Regions from separate parts of the Homo sapiens genome. Here region 1 is linked to region 2. The links come from fine-mapping of genetic effects on gene expression. Tissue or cell type: lung. Region 2 holds a variant in brackets; the other region holds the start of a gene. All regions are shown on one strand. Distances are between the middles of the regions.

Region 1 (8,184 bases), 24 kb after region 2:
CAGCCTCCCGAGTAGCTGGGATTACAGGCATGCGCCATCAGGCCCGGCTAATTTTTGTATTTTTAGTAGAGACGGAGTTTCTCCATGCTGGTCAGCCTGGTCTCGAACTCCCGACTCAGGTGATTCACCCGCCTAAGTCTCCCAAAGTGCTGGGATTACAGGCGTGAGCCACCGGATGTGGCCCAAAAGATCCAAAAGACAGCAAAAACACTGGGAAAAACTATTTGCAAACCACATCTCTCAGGGGTCCCCAAGTCCTGGGCCTCAGACTGGTACAGGTCAATGGCCTGTTAGGAAGCTGGCAACACAGCAGGAGTTAAGCACCTCCTGAGCCAGCCTCACCACCTGAGCTCTGTCTCCTGTCAGATCAGCCAGGGCATCAGATTCTCACAGGAGAGCGAACCCTATTGTGAACTGCGAATGCGAGGGATCTAGTTTGCATGCTCCTTATGAGAATCTAATGTCTGATGATCTTAAGTGGAACAGTTCCATCTGGAAACCATTTCCCCCACCACCCCCACTTCCGTGGAAAAAACTGTCTTCCACGAAACTTGTCCCTGAAGCCAAAAAGGTTGAGGACTGCTGATGTAACTGATAAAGGACTCATGTCTATAATTTAAAGAACCTTCAAAACTCAACAGTAACAGAACAAATCAAGAAAATAAGAAAATGACACGAAGAGGGATTTCACTGAAGAGGATATGTGTATGGCAAAGACATGAGAAAATGATCAACATCCCTAGTCATTAGGAAAATGCAAATTAAGACCAGAGTGAGGTATCACTGCACACCTAATCGGAACAGTAAAAGTAAAAAAATAGTGACAATACAAAATACTGGTAAGGATGTGGAAAAACTGGATCTCTCATATATGGCTGCTGGGAATGTAAAATAGTACCACATTTCTGGAAAATAGTTCAGCAGTTTCTTTAAAAATTAAACACATACTTACCATATGACCCAGCAATCACACTCCTGGACATTTATCCCAGAGAAATGAAAATTTAGGTCCACAGAAAAACCTGCAAGCAATTTTTCAAGACAGTTTTATTTGTAATAGGCACTCCCCCCGCCCAAAAAAAGAAGGAACCAAAATGTATGATAGGTGAATGCTGAATGATTAAACAAACTGTGTTACACCCATAGTGTAGAACTCAGTAACAGAAAGGAACAAACTAGAAATACCTGCAATAACTTGGATAAATCTCTAGGGCATTCTGCTGAGTTGGGTGGGGTGGGGGGGTGGGGGGGATGGTGAGCTAATCTTAGAAGGTCACAAGCTGTGAGGACCAATTTATAAAACATTCCCCAAACGACAAAATTATAGAAATGGAGAACAGACTGATGGTTGCAAAGGGTTAGGGATGGTGTGGGGGAAAGAAAGGGACGACCATAAAGGGACTGTATGAGAGAGATCTTCGTGGTGTTGAAATAGTTTGTATTTTGATTGTGGTAATGATTACAAGAGTCTTCAGGGATAAGGTGACACAGAATCACAGGCACATTTTATCTCAGTGTCAATGTCCTGGCTTTATTATTGTGCTCTAGCTATGCGGGATGTAACCAACAGTGGAGGCTCTATCAGACCTCTCTGTACTATCTTTGCAACTTCCTGTAAGTCTACATTCAAATAAAAAGTTAAAAAAATCGGTGCCCAGGCCACATCCCAAACCTTGTAAATTAAAATATCTAGGGGAAGAACCTAAACAACTGCATTTTTTTTTTAAATGCACGAGGTAATTTTAAAGTGTAGCTAGAGTTAGGAACCACCGCCAGCTGGTATTATTACCGAAACTACAAGCAGGTGGAACACCTGTAAGTCTGGTGGAAGATGATAAGGAAGGAGAAAACTAAATATACAAATCTATGTTAGGTTTCTTGAGGGTTTTATTCTCCTAACGTTAAAACCTAGTATTAAGTGAATCCAAATAATGTGGATGGGATAATCAGTCATCCATTATGATACAGACCATTTTACACAAAATAGGCCAGCCCCAATAGACTATTCTTTAGATTCTTAAGCATTTGGTATCGATGTTACAATTTTAAAATGCTAAAAAGCAATTATAATCACATTTAAATATGCAGCAATTTTAGAAAATCAATGTTTCACCGAGTTTCTCATTTTAGATGAATAACAAAATGAGTTCAAATTTTTATTTGTGTTGACTACCACCAGCAGCGACCCGTGGGAAGTAAGTGAAAAGCAAGTATTCCTATTTTGACTACACATTCTAATGTATTGGTTATTTATATTTATGATCACCAACTATTATCTATTAGACTTCTCCGGATTTAACTGTTTAGGAAGTGAGCTGTAGACATACAGAAACCAAGGATTATTTTGAGCCAATAAACAGTGACTTGACCAACCGAATGCCTTGTGTGGTTATTAATCATTCCATATCACCATCATCAAAAGACACTGTGCATCTACTCAGCTGGGCCAGGGGATTAAAGGTTTACGAAAGAGTCCCTCCTTGCCTTTAAACGGTTTAAAGTCTGTTTGAGGATGGGTCCAAATACATAAAATGATGAATAACAAAGCGAAGAACATGCTGAAATCTGGACTGACAAAAGAAAAGGGCCAAAGGGCTTGTTTTTACTGGAAGTATTTTTGCATAAGCTGGGAAGGGAGTTTGCATCTTCTGGACTCATAGATCAGACAAATGAGCAGCTTCAACAAAGCAGATTTATGCTATCCACCAGGAGGGTTTTGCTTAGTTGTCAGTTGTGGACTTTCTTCCAAAAATGCAGCTGTTTTGAAGCAAGAAATCTGGCACCAAAAAATAAATAAAATGAAAATTTAGAATAAGAATTACCTCCCACCCAACTCTAATCAACAGCTACGTCTCCCTTTCCTCCACCTTCAAGATTTAAAGGTCTGGGGTGGAAACTGGAGGTGTGGGGGGGCGAATGAGCTATTTGCCTTGCCCCAAGACCACCAATCTCCTGTGTGTGTGTCTCTCTCTCTCCAAATACGACCCTCACACACTCTCCAATTTACACTGCTACAACTTCCCAGATTTGTTTTACCTTCTGGAAAGATTTATCCATTTGGAAGCGTTCTTGAAGTTGCTAACTGTCGTGAAGTTCGATTTGAAAGCAAAACAATGACCGCGTTTTAACAGACAGTGCAAATTCTTTTTAAAAAAAAGTTGTTTTGTGATTATGGGAGATAATCAACAGCTACTCAGACATTCTTCTCTTAAACAGCTGAGGTTTATCATTTTCGCTATTATGACAATGAATTTTTTCCTCCTTTGCTTTCTGCCTTTTGGCAGGAGCCTCGACTCTGCAGGTGTTAGCGCTGTAAGGGCCGAACCCAACCGCCAGAATGTCTGCCGAGCCTAGCATGGGATGCTGCCCAGCAAAACAGCACCCAGGGAGAGGGCGACTGAGGAAGACAGCCTGCAAGCGCGCTTCAGAAAGGACTGGGACCAGAGCCCTAGAAAACTACAGCGAGTGGATTCCCTGGCAGGGGAAACCCGCGAGAGCCTGGGAAAAAAAAAAAAACGAGAGGGAGAGAAAAAAACTCACCCGGGCGCCCTGAAGCCCAGCGCAAGCAAGCGAGTGAGCGCGCAGGCTGGCTGGGCTGCTCCAGCTGGAAGTCATTGTGCGGGCTGGCGTCTGCGTTGTCAGGGCGACCGCCCGGCCGGCGCCAGCGGAGCGGGGGAGGCGGGCTCCGTGAATGGGTGACGTCACGCAGCCGGCGCCAGGCAGTCTGGGCGGCCGAGCCAATGAATCAGCTGTCCGGGGGAGGCAGCGCAGCGCGGCGCGCGGGAGCTGGGTGCAGGAATGCGCCTGGAGCCGCGCGGCCCGGGAGGGCGCGAGACGTCTCCGCCCGCCTGGTCGCCCCGCGGCGGCCAGAGGTCCCAGCGTCCCAGGCTCGGCCATTCCGGTGCCCCCCACGCCCAGTCTGCGGCTGTGCCCGCGTCCCTAGTTTTCCGCCGGTTACCCCCACGGGCGCGCGCTCTGCGGGGAGGCCCACGAGCTGGGGGGGCCGCTGGGGTGGTGTCAGGATGTTTTCACTTACTGCGACTGTGGCACTTATTTAAAAGGAAACATACAATAAAACTTGTCCTTGTAGATAAAATAGACTTTGAAAGTATTGATGAATTCACTGCCACCTTACTGTGCTCTCCGCATTGTGCTGGGTGTTGGGTATCACAAACAATGAAAGGACCAGGACTCGGAAGTTCCCAAAATTGAACTGGGTAGAAAAAAGTGTAAGGAACTCATGATTCAGACTTACAGCCGACTGCTCTTCCAATATTCTATAGTGTGGGACTATAGGGCGCCTTTAAGGTTCTAGAAGGCAAATGGCTCCAAAGATTTCCAATTTTTTGGTGTTTTTGTGTTTTGCATTACCTCTGTCCTGCTTTGCTCTCCATTACAGTGTCCTGTAGGTGGCCAAGTACTGGGTTAAGGTCATTTCAGTATGCCCAGCATTTGACGCTCTCCCTGACTCCTGGTAAGGACTGGACATTGTTGATGGGTAATCCACAATGCAAGAGCAAATAATTTTAAGGCTAGAGTAAAAGGAGTACTTCTGAATTCCTAAACATCTTTTTGGGTGCTTACTTGTTGGTTTCTGGTGGTTTTTCAAGAGTAGTGATGCATCATTACTGAAACTGGAAAACCAGAGTGTGGCCCAGACTCACATTATAGTAGATGTCGTTAAATCAGCCCTTCCTGCTGAAGTCTGTGCCCCCCTTTTTAAATCTGGAAGATGAGATCTGGTGAGATATTCTCTTAAGACTCATGAAGTTCTAGCAGTCTATCATTGTATTTATCAACCTTTCAAACGAATGACTTTATTCCTATCACAGTATGTGATATATGTGACATTCATTTAACAAACACTTCAGGGTCCCTGCTATGCAAATACTATGTACTGGAAGTTTTAACTGAAATTTTTTTGGAATAAAAGTTAAGGGCCTGGCGGCTCATGCCTGAATCCCAGCACTCTGTGGGGCCGAGGGAGAGTTCGAGACCAGCCTGACCAACATGGTGTCCGGAATTGGTGGGTTCTTGGTCTCACTTACCTCAAGAATGAAGCCGCAGACCCTCGCGGTGAGTGTTACAGTTCTTAAAGGCGGCGTGTCTGGAGTTTGTTCCTTCTGATGTGTTCAGTTTCTTCCTTCTGGTGGGTTCATGGTCTCGCTGGCTCAAGAGTGAAGCTACAGACCTTCCCCGTGAGTGTTACAGCTCATAAGGCGGCCTGTCTGGAGTTGTTCATTCCTTCTGGTGGGTTTGTGGTCTCGCTGGCTTCAAGAGTGAAGCTGTAGACCTTCACGGTGAGTAGCACACAGCTCATAAAGGCAGTGGGGACCCACAGAGTAAGCAGCAGCAAGACTTATTGCAAAGGGCGAAAGAATAAAGCTTCCACAGCACCTAAGCGGACACGAACGGCTTTTTACTGCTGGCTGGGGCAGCCTGCTTTTATTCTCTTACCTGGCCCCACCCACATCCTGCTAATTAGTCCATTTTACAGAGAGCTGAGTGGTCTGTTTGCGCTGATTGGTGCATTTACAACCCCTGAGCTAGACACAAAGGTTCTCCACATTCCCACTAGATGATGCTAGATACAGAGTGTCCACACAAAGGTTCTCCAAGTCCCCACCAGAGTAGCTAGATACAGAGTGTCCATTGATGCACTCACAAACCCTGAGCTAGACACAGGGTGCTGATTGGTGTGTTTACAAACCTCGAGCTAGATACAGAGTGCTGATTGGTGTATTTACAATCCCTTAGCTAGACATAAAGATTCTCCAAGTCCCCATCAGATTCAGGAGCCCAGGTGGCTTCACCCAGTGGATCCCGCACTGGGGCCGCAGGTGGAGCTGCCTACCAGTCCTGCGCAGTGGGCCCACACTCCTCAGCCGTTGGGTGGTGGATGGGACTGGGCACCATGGAGCAGGGGGCAGTGCTCATCAGGGAGGGTCAGGCCGCACAGGAGCCCACGGACGTCGGGGGAGGCTCAGGCATGGCGGGCTGCAGGTCCCAAGCCCTGCCCCGTGGGAAGGCAGCTAAGGCCCACCGAGAAATTGAGCACAGCAGCTGCTGGCCCAGGTGCTAAGCCCCTCACTGCCCGGGGCCGGCACCGCTGGTGGGCTGCTCTGAGTGCGGGGCCTGCCAAGCCCACGCCCACCTGGAACTCGCGCTGGCTCGCAAGCACCACCTGCAGCCCCAGTTCCCGCCCACGCCTCTCCCTCCACACCTCCCTGCCAGCTGAGGGAGCCGTCTCCGGCCTTGTCCAGCCCAGAAAGGGGCTCCCACAGTGCAGCAGTGGGCTGAAGGGCTCCTCAAGTGTCGCCAAAGTGGGAGCCCAGGCAGAGGAGGCGACGAGAGCGAGCAAGGGCTGTGAGGACTGCCAGCACGCTGTCACCTCTCAATGGTGAAACCCCATCTCTACTAAAAAAAAAAAAAACAAATTAGCTGGGTGTGGTGATGCACGCCTGTAGTCCCAGCTACTCAGAAGGCTGAGGCAGGGGAATCACTTGAAGGTGGCAGAGGTTGCAGTGAGCCGAGATGGTGCCACTTGCACTCCCACCTGGGCAACAGAGCAAGACTCCATCTCAAAAAAAAAAAGGGGAGAGAGAGAGAAAAAGAAAAGGAAGGAAGGAAGAAAGAAAGAGAGAAACTAGAAAACAAAGCAAGTGCTAATAAACGGGTATAGGCCAGTTTATCTTGATGTGCATGAAGTCACCTGGCAATTGGATGAAATGCAGAAGAGGCTTGGGATTCTGCATCTTTAACAAGCCCCCAAGTGATGTTGATATTGCTAACCCTGAACTGCACTTTGAATAAAGAGAATCTTGACCACAGAGTACCAAGGAAAGCATAAAGTAAGAATATAATGGATATAAAGTGGTCTGGGTTCCTAAAACCTGTGGAGAAGATGAGCTTGAGCCACGTGATTGTGCATATGATTGGCTGAGGGAATGAAAAAGCAGAAGAAACAGCATAAATAACAATTGCATTGGAAGGAAAGGAGCAAAAAATAAGTTGAGGGGTGAAGAAGATTTTGTCTGACTTCAATTAAAAATATTTAGGGAAACTATAAAAAATGGGATTGAAGATTTACTGGTGGGGTAAGACAACCTTAGAGGTTACCCAATTTAATTTGGTGTAGTTGAAACTGAGCAGCAGTACAATCTCATTAGATAATGGCAGAGCTCAGAATGGAAGCCGAACCTGAGAAATTTAGATGACAAATACCTTACACATAGAGTCTTTGATATAAGAAAAGCCACTTGTCATTGTTGTGCAAGGTGAAAATATGAGGGAAGAACGAAAACAAGCGAAGAGACCCATAGGAAATAATATTAATAGTCCAAGCATGGAGTTTTGGGGAAGGTTTGGTCTAGGGAAGATGAGAAAATATCAGGTGAAGAGGTGAATCAGAAAAATTTTGTGTTTGCATGAATTGTAATGGCTGCCACCAGCTGATTAAATCATCCATTTATGTAAGAAAAGGAAAAAACTTCCCTCCATCCCTCCCATGGTCCAATGAAGCATTTTTCAACCCTGACCTCACATCGGCATTACTATTTTTTTTCAGTGGGAATTCCTGAGCTCCACCCCACAGAAATTTAATCAGAATCTCTGGGAGTGGAGCCCTAGAATCAGTATTTTTAAAGCCTCCCTAGGTGATTATAATGGGCAGTCAGTGTTGAGAATCACTAATCTAATATACAGTCACCAGCTCATTTTGTAGGCTTCATTTCTGCCCCTGAACATTACCCCCAGTGTTAACTGTTATACTAGCACTAGATCATTTTTAATACTGGGTGTGTTTGGTGGTGGATTTTGATGGTTTATAGCACATTCTCTAAGCTCAATGTCTTCCATCCCTCATTAACTGTCATGGTTTAGTTGTGAACATACCCTGATATCTCTCATTGGCGAGAGAAGGAACAGTGATTTGGCACGTGACTGGATGGAAATGATAAACCTGGTTTATGAACCTATATGGTACCATAGTGTGGCAGTGCAGTTATTTTACTTGATTTTAGCTTTGCTTTAATAATCTACTTTAACAGCCTCTTTAGGTTTAGAACTGATGAATGAGCACTTAAAATAGCGACTTGGACCATTGGAACTTTTATTTTGCGTCTTCTCTAAAAAAATAATCGTTACTTGCTGGAAAAAAATCTGAAGGTGAGAAGAGTGTATAGT
Region 2 (8,184 bases):
TACCTATCAACTGGTGAAGAGATTAAATAATAAGTGAAATATTATTTAGCAACAAATAAGAATGAACTGATAACAAACAATAAGATGTTACAAAAAGCATTATATTAAATGAGAGAACCAGACAAAAAAGACTATAAAGTTCCATGTATATGAATTTCTAGAAAAGCCAGACTATAGTGATAAAAAGCAGATCATTATTACCATGGAGTAAAGAGGCAGGTGAAGGAAGTCACTGCCAAGAGGCCCACTGCAACTTTTAGTCGTAATGGAAATGTTCTATATCACGATTGTGGTAGTTGTCACAGAGCTGCATATGTTTGTCACAATTTATCAAATTATACGCTTAAAATTGAATTTTAGGCCGGGGTAGTGGCTTACACTTGCAATCCCAGCGACTTGGGAGGCCGAGGCAGGAGGATCACTTAAGGCCAGGAGTTCAAGACCAGCCTGAGCAACACAGTGAGATTCCCGTCTCTACAAAAAAAGAATTTTTTTAGTTGGCCAGTGTGGTGGTGTGTACCTGTAGTCCCAGCTACTTGGGCGGCAAGAGGATGCCTTGAGCCCAGGAGTTTGAGGCTGCAGTGAGCTATGATCACACCACTGCACTCCATCCTGTGCAGTGTGCAAGATCCTGTATCTAAAAGAAAAAAAATGAATTTTTTAATTTTTATTTATTTATTTTGAGACAGAGTTTCACTCTGTTGCCCAGGCTGGAGTGCAATGGCATGATCTTGGCTCACTGCAACCTCCGCCTCCCGTGTTCAAGCAATTCTCCTGCCTCAGCCTCTCGAGTAGCTGGGATTACAGGCATGCACCACCACACCTGGCTAATTTTTGTATTTTTAGTAGAGATGTGGTTTCACCATGTTGACCAGGTTGGTCTCGAACTCCTGACCTCAGGTGATTCACCCTCCTCGGCCTCCCAAAGTGCTGGGATTACAGGTGTGAGCCACCGCACCTGGCCAAAAAAAGAATTTTATTATATGTAAATTATGCCTCAATAAAGCTAACAAAAAATAGGAGGTTGCAATCAATCCCATGTATATCCTATGTGGACATGCAGGTGCCTCCTCATTACTACAGTTCATATCCAGGAAAAGCTTTCCAGAAGCTTTATTTTTAGACTGGTGGAATTCACAGTGCAAAATATCAGCCTCAACTCAAAAAAAGTCACCTAGCAATATATTAAGTTAAAAATATTATTTTACAAATGCTCCTATTTATTTTTTTATTTCCATAGGTTTTTGGGGGAACAGGTGGTGTTTGGTTACATGAATAAGTTCTTTAGTGGTGATTTCCGAGATTTTGGTGCACCCATCACCCTTTATTGTAATCAGAATAATGTAAAATTCTTCCTTGAGTTTAGATGTCAGGGTTACATAATATATGTAATTTGTGGACATAAGTATGGACTCTTCCGTAACAACGATTGTGGAGTTACTGGTCCCGGTTGATATTCTATTCTAGGAAAACTACTTTAAGTTTTCTACTTGCTAGGCCTCTTCAAAACAGTGAGCAGGAGTGATATCAAGAAATAAACTGCTCTGATGCCTTACTTCTATCTCAGAATAGCGAGCAAATTAATCAATGAAATTTTTCCAAAAGGTTATGGACATAGACAAATAAAATGAAGAGACATCAAGTGAATGTTTGAGCCATGTGGCAATGTCTTAAAGCAGACACACCTTTTTTGTTTGTTTGTTTGAGACAGAGTCTCACTCTGTTGCCCAGGCTGGAGTACAGTGGCGTGATCTCGGCTCACTGCAAACTCTGCCTCCCAGGTTTACTTACACCATTCTCCTGCCTCAGCCTCCCGAGTAGCTGGGACTACAGGCACCCGCCACCACGCCCGGCTAATTTTTTGTATTTTTAGTAGAGACGGGGTTTCACTGTGTTAGCCAGGATGGTCTCGATCTCCTGACCTCATGATCCACCCGCCTAGGCCTCCCAAAGTGCTGGGATTACAGGCGTGAGCTACCGCACCTGGCCAAGCAGACTCACATTTTCTATTCATGGACATTTAATCTATGATGGACCAAATGACTACAGACATGAGAAAACAATATGTGAGTATAGTCTGTTGGCTGGCAAGTCTAAAATACAGGATTCTATATTTACAAACATGGACATTAGCCAGTTATGATTATAGAAAAAATGACTGGCAGATCGAAAATGCTATAATGGGATGTATTTTTTTTTTGTCTTTTTGTTGAGACGGAGTCTCGCTCTGTCGCCCAGGCTGGAGTGAAGTGGTGCGATCTTGGCTCACTGCAACCTCTGCCTCCCGAGTTCAAGCGATTCTCCTGCCTCAGCCTCCCGAGTAGCTGGAATTAGAGGCGCCTGCCACCACGGCCAGCTAATTTTTTGTATTTTTAGTAGAGATGGGGTTTCACCATGTTGGCCAGGCTGGTCTTGAATGCCTAACCTGAAATGATCCACCTGCCTTGGCCTCCCAAAGTGCTGAGATTACAGGCGTGAGCCACTGCGCTCAGCCTGTATTTTAAAAAGATACAAAATGATGTGTACATATCTCAATGATTTTTTAATACACACAGGAGATCAAAAGACATACATAAAAATGTTAACAGTGATTGTCGATGCGTATTTTTTATTCCTTTCTATAATTTCCAAATTTTTATGAGAACATATTATTTTCATTATATTGACTAAGTAGACAGAAAGGAACACAAATAACACATCAGTGAGTTCATCACGACAGGCAATTTGTTTCACTCTACTAAGCTTACTATTTATACTTCAAGTGTTCCTTACTAGGGAAGAACTTTCACCTTGCACATAACGGTGTGACCTGCAAATAGTTCAGCTTCTACAAAATTCAAGTCAGTTGAGCAAGACAGCAATGGCTGGGAACACTTAACCACCAGGGCAGGTAATTCAGCACCTTAATATCAACAGTGCTCAGAAATGGAAACTTCCTCATTGTAAATGGCTTCTTCAAATGCTACATTCAGTTTGACACAAAGATAGTTCCCCGTGACAACAAGCTTATTAGTGTATTTTTAATATGAGGTAAAGGTATAAAACCATAGAAGTCATTTTCTTGAAAGTAAATGCAGAACAAGGCATTATCTGTTATAGAAGCATATGAAATGTGTTGAAAATTTACAAAGAAAACTGATGCTGTGGGAAATTTTAAGTACATTTCACATTGACAATCCAAAATATGAGAAAAATGTCTGGTGCATGTTTTGGGGAATGTTCATCCAAGATAACAGACTTTGAATATAAACAAGTACCTAGAAAACATTTTTGAATTACTAAAAACGGTATCTGTTCTTTTAAAAATGTACGGATTTGTGAAATAAATACCAGAAAATACCTGAAGGGGTGTAGTTATTGAGCTGGGCTACAAAGCTATGCATTTTACCTAAGACACTCTACTGACAAAAATACAAAATGGAAAAGCCTGACTTTTTGCAAGGAAAAATAAACCACAGGGGATCCAACTCAATCACAAAACATTATGCATTATGTAACATATTCATTTGAACCATTCCCTGAAATACAAACAATTGCTTCATCAAAGACGTAATAATAATATCAAATATTTGCTGAAATAGTATCTAATATTTGCTGAATTTATAGTATACACCAATGACTATTCTAAGAACTGATGTTTTGTATTAATTCATGGAATATCTACACATAGGAAATAGTATTTTTCTTCTGACTCTATCCAGAATTGACAAAGCGGATGGTTGGCTACTCTTGACCACTTCTCCCTAAGTCTATATCAAAAAAATTTTAATTAAGTGGTAATATGGGTTTTTTTTTTTAAATCTCATGCAACAAATTAATACTTTCAAAATTACCCTTAAAACCAGGGGAAATGCTCTCATCAAATATTCCTTGGAATTATTCAAATCCTACCTGACATTTTTCTGACTGGTCATTGCTCTGTATTATTAAGTACATTTTGTCAAAGTATTTATCATTGTTCATTAGCACTATTCTATGTACTTATTGTCACAGATTAGTGTCTGTCTAGAACAATGTCTACCTACCTCATTTGAATATAATGCTTTTTCCAAAGACTAAAAGCTCCTGGAGACTAGGGACCAGTTTTATCTTTATTTGGGTGGGGATTGGGGGGCAGAACAGTGCTGTACACTGTAGGTGGTTCAGTTGCTTTGAGCTGAAGTCCATTAAGCACTAATGTTTGAAAAGAATTTTCTTCACCTTAGCATGCAGTCAAATAACCTTGAAAGAGTCTCAGGTGTGAGGCAATATTAAAAGTGCAAGGCTGCCTGCACAGGTAATTAATAGAAAGAAAGCAGGACTCAGCTCATTCCCTGGGAAAATTCAGTAGTGGCATCTTTAGTAGAGCAAAAATCAGTTTTCAAGTACAGTATTAAATGACCTTCCTTCCTGCTCTGGCTCGAAGTAAATTAAATTAAGAGGCGTCAAACATGCACCCTCCCATGTGACATGTTCAGGCCCTGCTTGGGCTCATTACCAAGTAGGAAACTTTGGGCACATCTGTGTGCCTTGCCCGGCCTCATTTTCCCTTTCTGTCAGTTGGAGTAACCTCAAGAGGTCTTAATGAGGCCACGTAAGTAATGCACTTCCTCACTTAGTGAGCACTCAATCAATGGTAGCCAGCTAATCATTACCTCTCAGTAGCCTGTTGGTGGAGCAAAACATTGATGTTTGGTTTCACAGCAGACTTTGGAAGATAGCTCTGTTAGTGAAAGAGAGGGCTTCTCTTAGCCTGAGGAATGACTGAGCCAAAGGCTGTGATGGCCCGGTACTGTTCATCTGGTGAATTCTGTATGGAACACCCTCAAAGACTTAATATTCGCAAAACAGCTTTTTCCTGCCCACCCCCAATCCCCACCCCAGCGAGAAT[GT/G]TCGCCTTTTTCTAGCTGTGGGGCACTAGGCAGACTCCTCTTCCAGTAGCTCCAGAGATGAGCCCCACAGGTCCCAGCCACAGTTCAGCCCCTGCTCCAGCTGTGGTGACCTTGAGCCCTCTCTCAAAAGCCTGACGGTCAGGCTCAGGAGTTGGAGTTAGAGTTTACCAAAGAAATGAACCAATAGGATATATATAGAGAGAGCGCGAGAGATAAGAAAATACATTATGGGAATTGACTCCCGTGATTATGGAAGATGAGAGGTCCCACAATCTGCCATCTGCAAGCAGAAGAACCAGGAAAGCCAGTAGTGTAATTCAGTACAAGGCCCAAGGCCTGAAGACTAAGCAAGCCAACGGTGTAAGTTCTGGGGTTTCAAGACCCAAGGAGCAGGAATTCTGAGGTCCTAGGGCAGAAGTTGGCCGTCCCAGCTCAAGAAGATTCACCCCTTTTCTGCCTTTTTGTTCTATCTGGGCCCTCAAGGATTGTATGGTGCTCACCCACATTGATGAGAGTGGATCTTCTTCACTCAGTCCATGAATTCAAATGCTAATCTCTTCTGCAGATACCCTCACAGACATAGCCAGAAATGATGCTTTACCAGATATCTGGGCATCCTGTAGCCCAGTCAAGTTGACACATGAAATTAACCATCACAGTGTGGGTATTGCAGGGAGAGAAACTGTGTAAAGGCTGGGAGGTTACAGTTACAGTGTATAAGTAGTTCTACGCTGGCCAGGGAATAGAATGGATGTAGTCCACGGTTTCTAGTTTCCATGGCTGAATGGTGGTGTCACTCAATGCTGAGCCTCAGTTTCCTCAAGTAGGCACATTTACCATCATAACACCTGCCTTGCCAACCTCAACATGTTATTTGATAATCAGAGAAGCTAAGAGACTCACAAAAGTATATTTTGGAAATAAAAGTGCTCATTATTTTTTCAAGACACTATTTGAAAAATATTCAAGAGATGTATCTCCCAGCTTCCTTGAGAATCTTAGACAAGTCACTGGACTCAGTTAGCTTGTCTGGAAAATGGGAATAACAACTCCATCTCACTAGGTTATTGTGAGACATGAAAATACAAATACTGTTTGCCTTCTGCAAATCCCAAAGTCAGCAAAATGTATATTAATTAATTAAATGTATCTCCCAAGGAGCAAACTTGAAGTTTCTGAGACATAATACAAGAGCCAGAAGTCTTTCTATTCCAATATATTAAAGCAGCATTTGTACTTCTGCCTCGCCCCCGGCCATTCCCGGCTGCATCTGTGGCACATGCTTTCTTTAATCTCACACAGTTTTCCTTCAATGAAGTTGGAAGATCGAATCCAATGTTTTGCCATTCCTTGCTCCCTTTTTTTTCTTTAGGTTGTTCTTTTCCTAACAGATTTTCTATACCCTATCATACCCCATGCCTTAGGAATTAAGAGTTGCCCCAAACAGTCCTTTGGGTAAAGCTCTGCACCCAGCATGCTTTGGCCCTGCTCATTCACAGACGGCTGTGCCTGGATATGTTTGCTCCAGGGGTGGCTTAGGACCCATGAAGTTCTTGTTTCCCTTGGAGATTAGAATTGCAAGGTTCACATGGGGTGCATTCAGCTCACACATACTTTCACACGTACTTTCGGTCTCTGTAAAAATTAAAATGCAGCAGGTATTGTTCCTGCAAATCTCTATGCAAAAACATTCTGCCCGCGCTGGCCAAGGAAATCAAGCCCATTATAGCTCCTTGTGCTCATCCTTCCTTCCAAGAAGAGAGGTCTCATACATATTAGGCTGCTGTAAACAGCAAGAAGATTGTTTTTAAATACATTCTTTTTGGCTTTTAAGTCTCTTTGGCTTTTGAATATGAGTGAATTAATATGGTCTTTGACATCACAAGAGTAAAAACAAACCACTGAAAAATGAGTAGTGAAGATTTGAATAGAACTAAATATTCCAAATCTGATCAGAAAATGCTTGTCAATCCCTCTGGTGTTTCTCCCCGTATCTAACATCTCCCAAACCATATATTCTTCCCAATAATACCAAAAAGAGAAAAAAGATATTTAACCTATAGAATCATATAGAGTGTGAATCTTAAAACATTAATTTCTCTCAAAGTAAATCTAGTGCCTATGGGCACTAGCAGCAGAGCATAGCTGCTAACACCTTCGTCCAACAAATCGAGGTTTAAATCCTGGTCCTGCTCCTTGGTATCTAATGACCTTAATTAAAGTGTTGTAATATTTCTGAGGTATTGGGATTTGATTAGAGGCATCCACTGGCAATAATTTGAGCAATGCTTTGACTACATCATTCCAGGTACTGCTCAGCAACAATTCAGAGAATTCATCCTTAAGATTCTGTTCTTTTCGAAACACATCCAGTACCAAAATCTGTATCAGACAGTGCTCACTTAGAGAAGCAGCACCAGTGGGAGGTAGATGATAAAATGATAAATAGATTATGTAGGTAGGTAGATAATTCATTACAGAAAATTAGCTTACTATCGTGGAGGCTGACTAAGCAAGTCCAACATCCCTAGCCCAGGGAACCAGGAAGGAAAGATCATGAGCAGAATGAAACTCACGGGCACAGGCCAGCACTGTCATCCACAGACAGAATTTCATCTCTTTGTAACAAAAACCTGGGGTCAGGCGCGGTGGCTCACGCCTGTAATCCCAGCGCTTTGGGAGGCCTACGCGGGCGGATCACGAGAAGAGGAGTTCGAGACCAGCCTGACCAACATGGTGAAACCCCATCTCTACTAAAAATACAAAAATTAGCCAGGCGTGGTGGTACATGCCTGTAATCCCAGCTACTCAGGAGGCTGAGGCAGGAGAATTGCTTGAATCCAGAAGGTGGAGGTTGCAGCGAGCCGGGATCTTGCCACTGCACTCCAGCCTGGGTGACAGTGAGTGACTTCGTCTCAAAAAAAAAAAAAGAAAAGAAAAAAGAAAAACTTCAGCCCTGTTTTGAAGGCCATCCCACTATTCAGTAAGGCCCACCCAGATTTTCTAGGGTAACCTCTCTTATTAAGGTTAAGTGGTTAATGGCTTTAATCACATATGCAAAATACCTTCATAGCATGACATAGGTAAGTGTTCGACTAACTGGAGACTGTAGTCTAGTCAAATTGACACATTAAAACATCAACAAAAGTCGTTTTTTAAAAATTCTGATACTTAGGTGTAAACCTAACAAACATCTGCATGACCTCTGCATTGAAAACTACAAAATATTAGGAAAGAAATGTTAAAAGACATAAATACATGAAGGGTTATACCATGTTCACAAACTGGAAGGCTCAATATTGTAAAGCTAACA

The links. PIP is the estimated chance that this variant, and not a neighbour inherited with it, causes the effect.
Region 1: LNC-LBCS starts here. The variant in region 2 is fine-mapped to the expression of LNC-LBCS in lung (TOPMed, PIP above 0.99).

What each region holds. Positions count from the first base shown.
Region 1 is chr6:19,801,135-19,809,318 of GRCh38, forward strand. It overlaps LNC-LBCS (lncRNA bladder and prostate cancer suppressor, hnRNPK interacting), which reads right to left and starts at 3,625. Exons shown (of 4, transcript NR_134651.1): 1 at 3,541-3,625; 2 at 953-1,022. It overlaps LOC105374963 (a long non-coding RNA gene), which reads left to right and starts at 6,788. Exons shown (of 5, transcript XR_007059488.1): 1 at 6,788-6,851; 2 at 8,049-8,166. RefSeq lists a silencer at 3,544-3,593.
Region 2 is chr6:19,776,805-19,784,988 of GRCh38, forward strand. The region is part of intron 2 of LNC-LBCS (lncRNA bladder and prostate cancer suppressor, hnRNPK interacting); the gene reads right to left. Among named protein-coding and RNA genes, the nearest start is that of LNC-LBCS, 24 kb to the right of the region's middle. The variant GT/G (reference allele first, on the strand shown) is at 4,871.